Linked DNA regions of Homo sapiens: region 2 is linked to region 1. Evidence: fine-mapped expression QTL. Tissue or cell type: coronary artery. Region 1 holds a variant in brackets; the other region holds the start of a gene. All regions are shown on one strand. Distances are between the middles of the regions.

Region 1 (8,162 bases):
ACAGGGTTTTGCCATGTTGGTCAGGCTGGTTTCGAACTCCTGACCTCGTGATCTGCCTGCCTCGGCCTCCCAAAGTGCTGGGATTACAGGTGTGAGCCACCGCACCCGGCCTGAGTCCTGTTCTTAATGAACTTGAGTCTCCATGGCCCCAGGCCCCAGTGCCAATGGGCCCCAAGGGGTTCTCTTAAGTCTTGGGCTGGCACATACACCCCACTTCAGACCCGTTTCCACCCTGTAAGGCTTCCTGGCTCCCTTTATGCCCCAGTAAACTTCTGAGAACTGTTTTCTCACCTTCCATGCTTCCTGAGAGACCTGGCTGGGAATGAAGCCATCCTTGGAAGCCTCAGGGAGGCCGGGCAGGTGTGAGCTAAAATCCAGGTGAGCCTGCTTCCCGACCAGGCCTTTCCCTTCCAGTGGCCCCAACCTCACCACTTGGTTCCAGCCAACTCAGTGGGGACTGACAAGGCCCCACTCATCTTTTGAAACTGCTGCTGGGTCTGGAGAAGGAAGGGCTGCCTGCAGCAGGGTGAGTGCCTGTCACGAGTATGCAAGCTGCAGACCCTAGACATGGCCCCACCTCGGACCAGCTGCACGATTCTGAGAGCCCACTCCGACCAAGCACTTGCTGTGTGCCGAGCACACTCCACACTGGCACAATCCCAACCGCTCTAGGATGGGGCAGTGGAGGGGCCCTCACCCATACGGTCACACACAGGGCGTACAGGAGAGGCTGGCATGGGTGAGCAGGGTCCCGGAATACTGTGGTCTTACTGGTCTGATGGCCTACATGAGCCCCTAGAGAGAACCCAGTGTCCAGAAAAGGTGTTTCCTCTCTTGTTTTCTGAGTGAACTTTTTGTATCCCTCAAGACCCAACCCAATTTCACCTTCTCTGGAAAGTCTTTCCTAGTGAACTCCTAGGCCTCCCTCAAGACCTAGTCTAAAGACCTTCTGAGAAGACTTCCTTGAGCCTCAAAGCAGTATTAGGAGTTCCTCCACCCACTTAGAGCTCCTCCTATCAAACCTCATATCACCCAGTGCGAGGGCACGTGACTTCCCCAGTGCACTGGGAGCGCTTCCAGGGTGGAACACACGATCACTACTAATAAATGTTGGGCTGGGCAGATGGCTGCCAGCACCACCCCAGGACATGCCCCCCCAGCAGGCAGGATGGTCATGTTGGCTGCTGGAGACCCCCTCCCTGGGCAGTGCCAGGCAGATGCTGCCAAAGCGACCTCCCTGTCCCCACTGTCCATTGGCCCTACTGACTGCCCCTCATAAGAGCAGGCCACATCAGCCCTCCTGCACCTCCTGCCTCATCTGGGACACCCACTGGCCCTCAAGGTGACCGTTCACACCTGATTCCTGGTGGAGTTCTGAGGGTCCTGTCCCTCATCTCATGACACACAAGCAAAACCCTGGGCGGAATAGAACACTGAGGGTCATTCTTCTCCCTCCCTCCCTCCCTCCCTCCCTTCTTCCTTCCTTTCTCCTTCCTTCAGAAAGAACCCTTAACTAAGCACCTACTATGTGCCAGGCACTGGGATATCATAGTGAGCCCACAAGCATGGTCCTTGTCTTCAGCCCTACCCCAGGGGGCAAATAATCTTTAACCAAATAACTCAAATAATTACACAACCACAAAGAGCCACCCATCTTACAAAGGAGCCATACCAGGTGGTTCTGGAAAAGTTTCTCCCAAGGGGACTCCAGCCCATCTTCCTCGGGCCCCTGGGGCTGAGATCTGCAGGATGCAGCAGAGTCAGGAGGGTGAAGAGAGCCTTCCAGGCAGGGCACAGCAAGGGCGGAGCCCTGGAGGACAGAGGCCCGTGTGGGCAGAGCAGAGGAGGGTGAGAGGCGAGCAGAGGAGGGTGAGAGGCCAGCAGCAGGCTGGTGGAGGATCCAGGGCTCGTTCTTGGGGGTGTTAACTTTGAGAGGGTCCCAACCACCAGCCCAGCCTCTGGGCACAGGGGCTCCACTGGGTGCGGGTTCCCCTTGGCAGCCACCACAGGGATTGTTTATCTGTGCACGCTCACAGAAGTGGAAGCTGCCACCCCAGGCTGATGGCTCTGAAGGGGGAAGAACCTTCCCAGAGCTGTCCAGGAAGGGCAGGGGCCACAGCACATGGGCCGCAGCACACTGGCCCAGCTCCCAGCCACCAAGAGAGAGGCATTAGGGGTCCCGCCCTGTAGTGAGCTTCTTGCACAGCCTGTACCAGCCTGTGAAAGCCCCTGTCTCAGGGATACCCCATTGTGTGTGTGCATGTGGGCATGAGGGGGTGGTCTGTGCAAAGATGGGGTGCCGTGCATGTGAGGAGGGGTATAATGTGTGTTCGTGTGCATGGGGTGCATATTGGGGTCACATGCACACACATGGGAATTCCTGGTATGTGGTGGAGGTGGCTGTACAAGCCAAGGTCTGCATGGGCAACAGGCTGATGGAGTGGACTTGCACGAGGGCTGTGGCTGGGAGCCAAGGCCTGCCGGGGCCCAGGGTCTGTGGTTCACGCTGGGGATTTGGGCCTTGGAGGCTATCGGGACCTTTTCTGTCAGGGCCTCTGACAGGTCCTGATGCCCTGTGGCTGAATGAGGGCTTCTTCATGAAACATGCGATTTTATAGTCAATCTCCAAGAGCCAGATCTCTGCTTTGGAGGCCTCGGCCTGACCTTGGGTGGCCCTGGATGATCCAGTCTCTGATCTGAGGTGGTCTAGCCTCCAACCTTGAGTGGTCCAGCTTCTGGCCTTGGGGGGATCAGCCCTTAAGCTAGGGCAGCCCAGCCTGTGAGTAACACTCACTCTGGATTTCCCTGGCCAGAGTCCTCTCTGCGGAGGAACTTGGGACCAGTTCTTTAGGGAGTTTTGGGTGACATCATCCCTCCTTACTCAAGAGCAGCCTTACGAGAACGACAGCTGGGTATCTCGGGATGAGCCACCCTCTTTCCCCTGTGGCTTCCCCTGTGACTTCCCCACTCCTACTTAGACTCTGAGTCCTGAAGGCCCAGAAGTCCCCGAGTCCCCTTGTCAGTGTGGGATTCAGTCCTACCAGGCCCCTGAACTTCCCTCCTGCCTTCTCCCCCTGGATAAGTCTCCTGGTGTCTCCAAGATTTGGATCTGGCTGCTCCTCTTCCAGGCAGCCTTCTCAGCTCTCACAGGCTGGGTTAGGCTTCCTCCTCCTCTACCCCCACAGTACCCTGGACTCCCACCATCCAAGCACCCACACCAGGTGATGCTGTCTCTGTTGCTCTGGCTCCTCTGCCAACCAGGAGGCATCTGAAGAGCTAAGTCTTTTGGGAACATACCTATGTCCCCCCATCACTAGGCAGAAGGTTAAACTCTAAGCAGGCTCACGAGAGTGAATGAACACATGAAGGAACAAATGAGAGAGGAGATGAATGAACGTCCTCCCAACATCTTCTGGGCTGGTGCCCACTCCTGTGTAGCCTCCAGGGCAGCCAACGGGGAGGCAGCTTTGACCTTCTCCCCTGGCCTCCTGCGGTATCCCCACCTGCCACTCACCCACCTGTCAGGGAAGGTGGCTACCCACACCCTGGCCCGAGAAGGGTTTGTGTCTCTAAAATACAGGTTTTCCAGGGAGGACGTGACTTAGCTGGGATGAGATGTACAGGACAGTCATGCCAGTCTCACCTCCATTCCCCCAGCTCACAGCCCCTGGCGGGCAGGAGGAGGCACTTTGGGGTCCCCATGCAACATAGGAGGCTGTGGAGCCAGAAGGATCTGGGTTCAAATCCAGCTTT[G/GC]CCCCTCTGCACGGTGGGACCTTGGACAGAGCCTTTTTCCCATCTGCAAGTCTGGGGTGAGGCTGCACCTTGGCGGCTCACAGGAGCCCAGTCATCCCTGGCACAGCCCCCAGGGCATGGCTGAATCAAGACTACGAGGTCTGAGGTGGAAACATACTTTTGGAGTCAATGCAGCTAATGCTTCCTGAGGCCACTGTGAGGACCCTGACAGGCACCCTCAGTGAGATGGGGGCCGAGGAGGGTGCTGGGCTGGGAGCTGTTGTCTCAGCACATGGCGGGAGATGCTGTGGGAGGGGGAGGCAGAGGCAGGAGACCCCAGGGAAGGCAGGTGAGACAACCATGAGGGTGGTCAGGCAGAGGAGGGCATCCTTTCACCAACAAGTCCTGCGGCCTTGGGGGTGGCAGCTCCTGGGGCCTTCTGAGCCCACGTCAGTGTCTTCCTCGATCCCTTGTAAGTTGTAGATGGTGTTCTGTCACCCGCGGCCTGCCGCCCACCCCAATGTGTGTCCCCCAAAATGTGAATGGGGGGCTGTGGCAGTGGCAGGGCTAGAGGCTCAAATGCAAGTAAGTGTCCTAAACCGAGGCTGAGATCCCCCACAGTCCCACCCTGCATGTCCCCAGTCCACCACCCCACCCAGCTGCCCAAGGCAGAACCCGGGAGGCACCTGGATGCCCCGTCCCTTCCTCCCACCTGTCCAGAGGTTGCTTCCCAATCACCCCTGCTTAGACTCTGAGTACTAAAGGCCCAGAAGTCCCCGAGTCCCCTAGTCAGTTTGTCCCTTTTAGCCCCAAGACTACTGTACCCGTCTGAGCCGTCACCTCCCGCCTGGACCTCCCCTCCCACTTCCTCTCTCTGCTGCCCTCCTCCCTTCCTCTCCTCAAATCACTTTTCCTGTGGGACATTTTCAAGCTGCAAATCTGGTTGTGTTGTTTTTCTCCAACTTCAAGTCCTGCAAACGCTCTCAGGGTAAAGCCAGGTCCCTTAGCCCAGGTTCCCATCTCCATGGCGGCCCCACCCACTCCAGTCATACCTGCGCTCCTACTGCCTCCCACCAGGCCTTCGTCATTACCGTCCCCCTCGCCTGCGACCACCTGTACTTCCCCCCAGCCCATAAACACCCCATGCATCCGGCTCAGCTCAAGGGTCCTCCGGCTGAGGGCTGCACCCCGCCTGCCCCGGTGGCTCAGCCGTCCTCATGTGCTCTGCACGGCAGCTGTGTCGTTTGATTAACGTCTGCAGATGGCACAGGGCAGGGTCCTCCTCTGTCCCGTCCACCGCTGGGACCTGAGGGCCAGACACTGCAGGCGGATGCTCCTCCACCTGTGAGCACAGGGTGGGGGTAGAGCCCCCGGCCTGTCCCACCATCCAGGGGAGGCTATTTCCAGCTCCCAGAAGTAGGAAGTGAGTCAGAACAGGGGCAGGCGGCCGCCGGCACTATGGGCGAGACGGCTGAGACCTGCACAGAAGGCTGGACCACCACCCAGGGTGGCAGGAAGGAGGCCTAGAGGAAGAGGATAGGAGGGAAGACCCTCTCCCCAGCAAAACAGGCAGCCCTGTGGGGCCCCTGCGGAAGCCGGTTTCGTCAGCACAGATGCAGCCACCAGGCCCATTGTCCTGCCACACCTGGGGCCCACCAGGAACAGCCTCCAGCCCAAACCCTCCAACCCAGTGGACACCCGTCCTGGGCCACTGCACAGGCCGGGCCTGCTGTGATCTCATTCACTGTCCACATGAGCACATGAGCAGAGGCTCTCCCTGGCCCCGTTTTCCAGAAGGCCAAAGAGAGGCCTTGAACCCAGCTCTGTGTGGTCATGGAGATCTCTCTGGCTTCTAAGCCTCAGGGGGTACAGGAGGCCCAGGGGACTCCAAAACTGCTCCAGAGGCAGCCACCACCAAGTCTGGAGCAGGCTCAGGGAAGGGGGCACAGACCTGCCAGGCCAAGGTTCTAGTCCTGGCTCAGTCTCTATCTGAAAACAGGGCCAGCCAGGTTCCCCTTCCCCGCCAGGCCTCAATTTCCCCATCCTCACTCGAGAGGCTTGGCTGGGCAGACTGAGTCAAAGCCAGGGGCTGCCTGGGCAGGGGGCTCAGGGGAGTCTCTGGGGACCAGGGTCCCTCTTCTTCCCTGCATCACAACCCGGGGCTCCAGGGACCCCAAGGATAGAATTGGCCGGGCAGCAGGGGAGCAGCACCCAGGGAGCCTCCATCCCAGAAAAGAGGCGGTGCAGGCCAGCCACGGGCAGCCCAGCTCAGGGGCACCTTCACATCCTCAGCTGGACCCATGTCACCACCACTGCTGCCTCTCCATTCTCACTTCCCTTTTGGTGCCAGAGCTGGGAAACCTCTGCCTCAAAAGGATCTGGGCTTGGATGGGCTGTGCAACTAGATGGGCACCCTGAGGCCTGGCCACCGAGGGTGGGCAGACCCAGGACATGGGGCCAAGGAGAGGCAGGACCACACAGGACAGACCCACAGGAGCATTGTTGGGTTATGACCTCTAGTCTAGGGTAGGGCGGCTGGGGGGTGGTAGAGTTTGTTTTTAAATTTTTAAAAATTTTATGTAGAGACGGGGGTCTCGTGATGTTGCCCAGGCTGGTTTTAAACTCCTGGCCTCAAGTGATCCCCATCCTTGGCCTCTCAAGGTGCTGGGATTATAGGCGTGAGCCACTGCACCCAGCCAGTTTTGAAGTTTTTCTTTTTTTGTGTCTGAATTTTCTAAGTTTTCCTCAAAGAATATGTATTATTTCTGTTAAAAAAAACATGGAGGCAGAACGAGGTGGCACATGCCTGTGGTCCCAGCTACTCAGGAGGCTGAGGTGGGAGGATTGCTTGAGCCCAGAAGGTCCACAGTTCAATGAGCTATGATCGCACCACTGCACTCCAGCCTGTGTGACAGAGCGGGACCCTGTCTCCAAAACAAAAAGCAGAGGGGAAAGCGATGGGTTGGGGGACCTGGATTTTTACAGGGAGGTACAGCTGTGACCCCGGGAAACTCTGGCCACTATCTGATGGACATTGGTGTTAGTGTCAGCACATGCTGCAGAATGATGGGGAAGGTAGGGGAAGGGAATACCCTGGTTAGTGTCCCCATCTGCGAGTTACCCTCCACAGTGCAAGGTGCTTATCCCCATCCAGACAGAAGCGTGCAGGTGCTGAAGCAGGAGCTGCCTCCGCCTGCCTCCTCTCACCCACTCTAGCCCCAGTCTCCTCACCAGACCTCAAGGCCATGCATGGGGCTTGGGCATAGGAAGCCCAGGACGGAGCCCTGACCCTTGGGACCTTCTCGTGCCCACCCAATGCTAGGCCCAGTGTGACTGGGGAGGAGCTGAGAGGTTAAATGATAAGCCCCGGAAAAGGCTCTTAGCAGTTGCAGCCACGTGTAATTTACAGCAGGTCTGAATCCCCACTGCCCATAATTCACTTCCATTTGTGTGACCCCAGGCCCCTTGGGGAGGATGCTGGGAGAAGGCAAGAGTTGGGGGTGGCGCTATTTTCAGCACCGGGAGTTGAATGGTGGGGGATGATTGATGCAATCTGTGGGTCTGCTTGTGCTCCTGTGCCCTAGACCCTCCCAGCCACGAGACCCCACCCGCCCAGCACCAACCCCAGTTCCTGCCCTTGCTAAGCAAAGGCCCGCCAGGCCTCACGCCGGGACTGGCCGGGTCAGTTTTGCCGGGCGTTGCTGTTATCCCCATGTATCAGAGAAGGAAATTGAGGCTGACAAGCAAACTCACTGCCCAAGGCCACACAGCCAGAATCATCCGAGTCCAGCCCTGTGGGCTGTCCCACCCACACTCCTTCTGTGCCACTGTCCCCCACCCCCTGGCCCTCCTGTGTAAGTTTGACTCTCCCCTCTGCTTTCTCCGCATCTGCACCTCCCACCCCCAGATGGAGACTCCTGAGCAGGCAGTGAGGACTGCGGAGGGGTCATCACACTAGCGTCCCTTTCCATGCTCGGCTCAGCTGTCCACTAAGGGCCGTCTTCAGCCCGGTGCTGGGTGCTGGCTCAGCAGAGGAGGGGGCCATAAGCCAGTATGCCCAGTGCACAGGGGAAGATGGAATGCAACTTCATGAGAGCAAGAAGAGGCCACCAGCAGTTTAGCCTCGGTGCAGGGAGGTCAGAGAGGGCTTCCTGGAGGAGGTGATGCCTAACCTCAAAGAGGCACCGGAGCTGCCAATGGATGCAGTAGTTCAGGCAGGGAGAGGAGGAAACAGCATGTGCAAAGACCCAGAGGCAGGAAGGAGCACGGCACATCAGTCTTTCGCTACTGCTGGCCCTGCCTTGCCTGACCCCTCCCCTCCCCATCCGTGCCCTCCCTGACCTCCCCCACCCACACCCATCCTCTCCTGCCGGCTCCTCTGCAGACCGGAAGGCGAGGTGGAATCCAGTCCCACAGCTCTCAATGAAGAG
Region 2 (8,162 bases), 740 kb before region 1:
GCCAGAGGTTTAAAGATGGAAACAGATCTGAAAGATTTGTGTTCTTTCTTCGCCATGCTGCTGGGAGGCAGGAGATCCCAGGATAGAGCACCACACTGCCCCAGGTCCTGGGTAAAAGGGTTTCCCATATGTTAAAGACATAGCTCTGCATTTCCTAGCAGGGCAAGCTGCTTTTAGTCTGAGTCTTAGCTTCTGCATCTGTAAAGTTGCTTGCTATAAAGGGATCAGCCTGACAACCTCAGAGGAATGTTCCAAAGAGAAGCCAGGGAATAACTTCTGTGATACAGGATCAGCCAACATTCAGCCAAGCTGAAAACAAGGCACCCCTAGGAAGGGGGAAACGCTACTGTGTTTACTCCTATTTTGTAGATGAGCACACTGAGGAACAGGGAGGAAAAGTGACTTGCTCAAGGTCACAAGATCTTCTTGAGCCTGCACTGTCCATGTCCTCTGCTGCACAGTACCTTCCAATCTCCATGCACTACATATCTCACTGGGCTCTACAACATCTTCAAGTGAGACAAATCACTAGCTCCATTTTAAAGCTGAATGAATTGAACCCAAGGCTAAGCCTTTCACCTCTAAGAGGATGGTGTGTTTAATAACCTAGCTGTTACTATTGGCTGGGTTGTGAGACCTGTGGAAGTCACCCTGCAGCTAGATTTCTGCGGAACCTCAAAGGCGGGGGTAGGGCTAGGGCTCAGCTGGCAAGGAAGCCCACAGGCCACTAGAGGGTGACATGGGAGCGGCATGGCCTGAGATGTTTAAGAATCAGAGAGGAAGCCTTGCACATTTTGGTGTCAAAACACCGGAGTCGAGGGTCACTCAGTAATCACTCACCTGGGTTTTCCCAAATTGTCCTGATACGAACGCTTGTCAAAACCGTTTCTGCCCAGGCACTCCCTTTCCTAGCCCCTGCCCCCAAATTAAGTTCTTCCCAAGGGAATGTAAGTGGAAGGAATCCGTGATTTCTGTCCGGTTTTTAAAAGATGGGATCGTTCTTCGCAGTCTCCTCTTCCCCCAGCTCTAGGCAGAGGCCTCTAGGCCCTTGGGGATGGTGGTGTAAGGTGGAAGGGGCAGGTCTTTGCAGCAGCATCTGCAGGAAAGCCTTTCTCCTACCTTTTGATGGTTTGGTGGTCTTTGGCTTGTAAAATAATCAGTCCAATCTCAGCCTCAGCTTTAATAGTAAGGGATCAAGCAGTAGTTTCTACTCAATGTTCCTCATACCCAGAGTCAAGGATTCTGCTATGCTAACACTAACATTATGGCTAAAGAATGTTCACTTTCTGTTAAGTTATGTTGTGAATCAGTTGTATTGATGTGAGGAGACATTCAGAACTACCATGAGGATATTTTAAACAGTTGTTAAATCAAGTTTAGCCTAAAGCTGCTTCCTTATATATTTTAAGTTCGGCTTATAGGTTTTCTGCACATTGTGAACTATAAGTGGAGGCATAAACAGACCGTAGCCTATACTTGTGCCAATCACAGAGTTTTTGCCAATCAAATGTAGCCAACTGTTCAAACCATGTTCAAATAAGGCAAGGCAGAGCTGTAACCAATCCAGCTGTTTCTGTACCTCACTTTCCTTTGCTGTCCATAAATCTTCCATTACATGGCTGTGCTGGAGTGTCTGAGCTTGCTCTGGCTCAGAAAGCTGCCTGATTTGAATCGATTGCTCAATTAAACTTTTTTTCTTTTGAGACAGAGTCTTGCTCTGTCGTCCAGGATGGAGTGCAGTGGTGCAATCTTGGCTCACTGCAACCTCCACCTCCCGGGTTCAAGTGATTCTCATGCCTCAGCCTACCGAGTGGCTGGGATTAGAGGCACTCACCACCATGCCCAGTAATTTTTGTATTTTTGGTAGAGACAGGGTTTCACAATGTTGGCCAGGCTGGTCTCGAACTCCTGACCTCAAGTGATCTGCCCACTTCATCCTCCCAAAGTGCTGGGATTACAGGTATGAGGCACTGCACCCGACCCGGCCAATTAAGCTCCTTTAAATTTAATTCAGCTGAAGTTTTTCTTTTAGTACACTGAACAGGGGAAACTGTTTAAAACAACATCATATTTCTCAGAGGCTAATACTTAAATATAAGATGGAAGGATCAAAGTGTAACTATTGTCATTTTTATCACTTGCTGTGCTAAGTGCTTTCATGTGGATTTACTTAAACCTTTTAAAAGTCCTGTGAGATAAAGGGTATCATACTCATATTTACAGATGAGGAAACTGAATTTAGAAACTAGTATAGTAGTGAAACAGCAAAACTCTTCTGCTATACTCTATTGGAGCAATTAGAAACTATGCCTTAACATTTTTCTAATTTTTGTTTTGTAAAATTCTGTGCCACTGGATTTCTCATTTGGTTGATTTAGGGAGACCTGTGTACACTAAACATTTGACACATTAACAGAGTACTTGACTGATTTGACTACATTTGTTTGGCAAAAAAGTACAGCAGCTCAAAATTGAAACAGTTTTTGCAACATATGTATATTTTTCTTTGTTTTACCTATGGGGATAATTTACAAAGGCAGTTGTTTCCAAATACCTTCTTGTGAAGCTGAATGCTAAGCAAGTAAATATCAACCACTGATGAAGAAACCAGGTGAGAGACCTTAGACAAGGTAAAATAATCTGAAAAGATGCCTGCAAATATTTTGCAGTTTAGACTCTACGCCTTGCAGAGTTTTGAGCTCTTTTTTCTTGATGTTGTGTTAGCAATGTAATCTTTTTTGGTGCTGAGCTTAGCTTGCTGAGATGAAAGGGATTTCTTTTTCTTCTCAAGGAGTTGACACAATGGAAGCTGGAGGCATTTCCCAACACTGTGGTCAATGCTACAGTCGGGGAACAAGCAAGTCTCCCCCAAAACAGGGATCGGAGTTTTTAAGGATAATTTGGCGAGTAGGAGCTCGGGAAGTGGGGAGTGCTGACTGGTTGGGTTGGAGATGGAATGATAGGGGGTTGAAGTGAGTTTTTCTTGCTGTCTTCTGTTCCTAGGTGGGATTGCAAAACTTGTTGAGCCAGATTACCGGTCTGGGTGAAAAAGCAGAGTGGCATTCTTCCTGGAGGAGCTGGCTGAAGATCTGTAGAGGGCCCATGTGCCACGTTCAGAGCACTGTTGGGCTGTGAGGTGCCAGGCATGCCCTGCCTCCTACGTGGGCCCCTATGGCCTGGCCTTGAAACCGCCACTGCAAAATTATAACCGAGACAATGAAAGAGATCTGACCTAACCAACTCCATCTTGCTTCTAACCTCCAAGCTGTCCTTGTTCATTCCTGAGCGTAGGCTGAACTAACCTTGGGAAGGAATGAGTTTATAGTTTAACTTCAAAACAAAAATAGCCCTTTCCCGGGAAAACAACAACAACAACAACAAAAAACAACCTCTTCTTGCCTGGGACCAGTTGGCCTTTGGAGGACTAACAAATTAGCTATAAGATTAGAAATTACAGTTTAGAGGCCATACAGCCTTTGGTTGCAAGAGTCTGAACGTCCCCCAAATTGTTCCTGGGAATAACATCACTGTTGTAAAACCTACCAACACCCAGACTGGTAATCTGGCTCAACTAGTTCTGCAATCCCATTCAGGAACAGAAGACAGCAAGAAAAACTCACTTCGGCCCCCTATCAGTCCATCTCCAACCCGACCAATCATGCACCTCCCACTTCCCGAGCTTCTACTCGCCAAATTATCCTTAAAAATTCCGATCCGTTTTTGGGGAGACCGATTTGGCTAATAAAACTCCCTTTCCAACACACCCGGCTCTGCGTGAATTACTCTCTCTCTATTGCAATTTCCGTCTTGATAAATCAGCTGTCTAGTCAGCGGGCTGTAACCTTGGGCGGTTACAGCCTGGCCTGTCCCATCCCATCCAATAGTTCCCATCTCTTCTCAGCTCTCTCTGTAGTTTCTCTTCCTCCGCCTGCCTTTTAAGTTAGTGTTTCCCAGGACAGAGGTGACTCAGTTGTATCCAGACCGCTCTGTGACTGAACACCCACTTTCTTTTCCTTTTCCAAAAAATATATGTAACATACATGTCAACTAGGAACAAAACAGTATCTCAGGAATCCACCATCCAGTTAAAAATGGACCCTTACCCTTACCGTGCCCCTGCAGAGACCCCAATACAGCGCATTTCCCTCATTCTTTTGCTTTTCTCAAGTTTTACCACGGCCTCGTGGCCACAAGTGACAAAAGAGACAAGTGGAGGCAGCTGAGCCGGCCTTTAGGTTTCTGTACACAGGGAGATTTCCCATGGCTGGCATTTATGGAAACAACCGCTGGTATGTGAAAAACAGGTCCGTCACCGCCGTCACGACGGCCAGAGATTATACCCGCCGAGATGCCCGCGGCCCAGGGCCTACAATTTCCTCCGGCCAGCTCCTTTGGCCGCGCAAGCGCAGTGGGGCCGGCGGGAAGCGTAGGCGTGTGACGTCATCAGGCGGCGCGGGCCAGCCAGGTGCACGTGACTAAGGCCTTGGGCGCGGCAGGTGGTAGCCTTCCCGCCCTTCTGGCCTCTCCATCCCCTGCTGCGGGGGACCGCGCAAGCGCAGTGAGTACTGCACGTTGTCGCGGGCCAGTAACGTCATCAGACGTGTGTGTGTCCCTGCGGCGCTAAGAAGGGGAGACTGAGGCTGAGGCTGGGGAACATCGGGCAGCATGAGCGGCTGCGGGCTCTTCCTGCGCACCACGGCTGCGGCTCGTGCCTGCCGGGGTCTGGTGGTCTCTACCGCGAACCGGCGGCTACTGCGCACCAGCCCGCCTGTACGAGCTTTCGCCAAAGAGCTTTTCCTAGGCAAAATCAAGAAGGTAACGCGAGCCCTGGGCGAACCCTTGCTGTCTGGCTCCCGCTTTTCACCCTCAGCTGCAAGACTGGTGTTGAACTTTGTGAGATTCCCCAAACCTGCCAGAGAGATACACCCTGCGGCCGAGGCGTGTTAACACTCCGGATTCCTGAGTTCCAGGAAAACCTTCCCAGAGAAAGGGTGAGACATTTCCAAGACGGGGGACCCTTGGAAATGTGGTGGTGACGTGTTCCAGCTAAATTTTGTCAGGGGAATTCGGAAAACTCTAGGCTAGGTAATTAACAAAGCAGCCTTCATCTCAGCTGGTCTGGTCTGGAAATGTGCGGGGCTTCCTCTCTGATTCCTAAACAGCTTACACCATGTCCCTCCTCAGTCACCTTCCAGCGCCCTGGGGCTTCCTTCCCCAGGTGAGCCCAGCGCCTCTCCCTGCCATTGAGGTTCCTCAGAAATCTGGCTCCAAGATGCTTCCCAAGGGTGGCACAACCCAGCCAATAGTAACAGTTTGGTTATAAAACACTCATTGTCTTCTTAGAGTTGGAAGACTTGGGTTTGGTCTTGGCTCGTTGACTTTGAAACTCAGTTGTTTTTTTTGAGACAGAGTCGCGCTCTTGTCGCCCAGGCTGGAGTGCTCACTGCAACCTCCCTCCTGGGTTCAAGCGATTCTCCTGCCTCAGCCTCCGGAGTAGCTGGGATTACAGGCGCCTGCCCGGCTTTTTTTTTTTTTGTATTTTTAGCAGAGACGGGGTTTCACCATGTTGGCCAAGCTGGTCTAGAACTGACCTCGGGTGATCCGCCCACCTCGGCCTCCCACAGTGCTGGGATTACAGGGGTGAGCCACCGCGCCCGGCCAAGACTCAGTTCTTTCAGCCTTAAAATGGAGATAGTGTTGTGTCTCCTTCACAGATGTGTTGTAGAGCCCCAGTGAGATAAACGGTGCATGGAGAGTCTTCTTAAACTGTAGAGTACTGTGCAGCAGAAGAGAGAGCTGGCTTCAACACTTAGTCTTGTGACCTTGGAGCTGACGGCTGCACCTCCCTGTGCCTCAGTGCATTCATCTACAAAATAGGAATAAACACATTTCTTGCTCTTTCCTTTGTATTTCATTTTATCTTCTAAGGAAACCAACAGTATACTTGCTATTTCGTCGAGGTGCCCTACTTTGAACTTGGCTGAATGTTGGCTGATCCTGTATCACAGAAGTTATTCCCTGGCTTCTCTTTGGAACGTTCCTCTGAGGTTGTCAGGCTGATACCTTTATAGCAAGCAACTTTACAGATGAAGAAGCTAAGACTCAGACTAAAAGCAGTTTGCCCAGCTAGAAAGTGCGGAGCTATGTCTTGAACATATTGGAAAACCTTTTACCCAGGACCTGGGGCAGTGTGGTGCTCTATCCTGGGACTTCCTGCTATCCAGCAGCATGGTGAAGAAAGAACACAGATCTTTCAGATCTGTTTCCATCTTTAAACCTCTGGCACTACCTGCCCTGCCCTGCCTTTACTCTCAGCTGTCAGCTTTGCTTCCCATTCCACTGGGAAAATCCATGCAGTCGGATGAGAAGTTCACAGGCACAGTTACCCCCTCCCGCTGCATATGTGCCGGTATTATCTACATTCTGTTACTGTGAACTGTCTGCTCCTGGCAAAACCAACCTCTCATTAGACTCCAGGTCTTCTCACCTACTCAAGGGTAATTCTTTCCTTTCTCTGCATCATTAACTGTTCTCTCTACTGGATCTTGAGCCCTTACCATTCAGGCATTTGTCCCTAATGGCCATAGAAGTCAGTAATGACCTCTCTGTTATCAAATTGTGTGATCTGTTCTCAGACCTCATCCTACTTGACCCATCATTGGCATCTGACACCGTTCATCCTTCCACCCTGTTGACGCACTTTCGTCTCTGGTTTCTGAATCACTGTTCTCGCCATTCTCTGAATGTTCTAAATACTTCACTGGCTGATACTTCTCTGTGTCCATTGCTGGTTCTTATTCAGCTCCTTGACCGCTAAACAGTGACCAGTGTTTCCAACTAGCCAAGTTGGAATTTACTAAGGCTGGGTCTCGTTTCATCTACAGCCATCTGCTGGGTGACCTTATTTAGTGTCCTGGCTTTAAATATCATCAATATCCTGATGCCTCAAGTTTCTTTCTTCAGTTCAGATTTCTCCCTGAACTCCAGATTCCTTTTGCTTTTTCAGAGTTGGGGGCTTTCTCTGTCACCTGTGCTGGAGTGCAGTGGTGCCATCATAGCTCACTGCAACCTTGAACTCCTAAGGCTCAATAGATCCTCCCACTTCAGCATCCCCAGTAGCTGGGACTACAGGCACGCCCTGCCACACCCAGCCAAGATTCTTTTTTTAATCTACCTTTGTACTCAAAAGCTGTACTAAGAGGTCTAACAGGCATTTGAGATTAATAGATCCCAAACTGAGTTCCTGGTTCCCACCCAATCCTGCTCCTTCCACCAGCCTTCTTTATCATAGATAATGGTGGCTCTGTTGTTCCACCTGTTCAAACAGAACACCTGGAGTCACCTTGTACTCTTATTCTCCTAGTCCACTTCTAATTCCACAGAAGATCTGGTTTTCTCTACTTTTAGGTTCTTAGAATCTGACCACTTTTAGGCCCTTCTGCTGCTACTTTGGATCAGGCCAGTGTCATCTCTCACAGCCTTACTGGGATTAGAGCAGAAACATGGGACATGATGCTTAGAATCTCAGATTGTGTAGGCCAGTGGTTGTCACCCTGCCCTAAGCTGGACCCAAGCTATTCATGGAGTGTCCTGGAACTGCTGCAGGGATGGGTGGGAAGTTGAGTGGGTGGGATTTGGGTGCCTGTTTTCCCTATCAGCAGTCTCAGTCAGAGCCGCCTGCTTCTGTCTGTTTTACATATTTGGTTTCTGCACTAGATTTCTTTGAATAACAGGTTCCACTTTTTTAGATAATTTACAAACTGTTTATTGCAATTGAACTCTCCTCCCCTAAGGCATTGACCTGATTTGATAACATCAGGATCTTTCTCCCACGCCCCTGCAATCTCTCCTGTGTGGCAGGTTTTCTGTGGTTGTACCTGAAGGCCAATTAGTTGCCAGGCAGTCTTATCTGGCCTGCCCACTGGTACCAGAATGATCTCTAACACAGCCCATTGCACAAGACCCAAGTGTCAGTGAGCCTCTGTGTTCAGTGAAGGAGACTGAGCTTTGATATAAAAGGCTGCAGAGTGATGGAGCCATCAGCTTGTTTTTTTTTTTTTTTCTTGTTTTTTTTTTCCTTGAGACAGTGTCTTACTCTGTTGCCCACCCTGGAGTGCAGTGGTGCAATCACAGCTCACTGCAGCCTCAACCTCCCCAGGCTC

Evidence for each region. PIP is the estimated chance that this variant, and not a neighbour inherited with it, causes the effect.
Region 2: it holds the start of ACAD9, and the variant in region 1 is fine-mapped to the expression of ACAD9 in coronary artery (GTEx, PIP above 0.99).

Annotation. Positions count from the first base shown.
Region 1 is chr3:129,614,028-129,622,189 of GRCh38, forward strand. It overlaps LOC124909431 (a long non-coding RNA gene), which reads right to left and starts at 1,774. Exons shown (of 2, transcript XR_007096079.1): 1 at 1,673-1,774. RefSeq lists an enhancer at 899-1,193. The variant G/GC (reference allele first, on the strand shown) is at 3,754.
Region 2 is chr3:128,875,027-128,883,188 of GRCh38, forward strand. It overlaps ACAD9 (acyl-CoA dehydrogenase family member 9), which reads left to right and starts at 4,594. Exons shown (of 18, transcript NM_014049.5): 1 at 4,594-4,815. The coding sequence starts at 4,666. It overlaps ACAD9-DT (ACAD9 divergent transcript), which reads right to left and starts at 4,410. Exons shown (of 3, transcript NR_186174.1): 1 at 4,110-4,410. RefSeq lists enhancers at 3,464-4,315, 4,171-4,720, 4,316-5,168, 4,781-4,860, 5,169-6,020.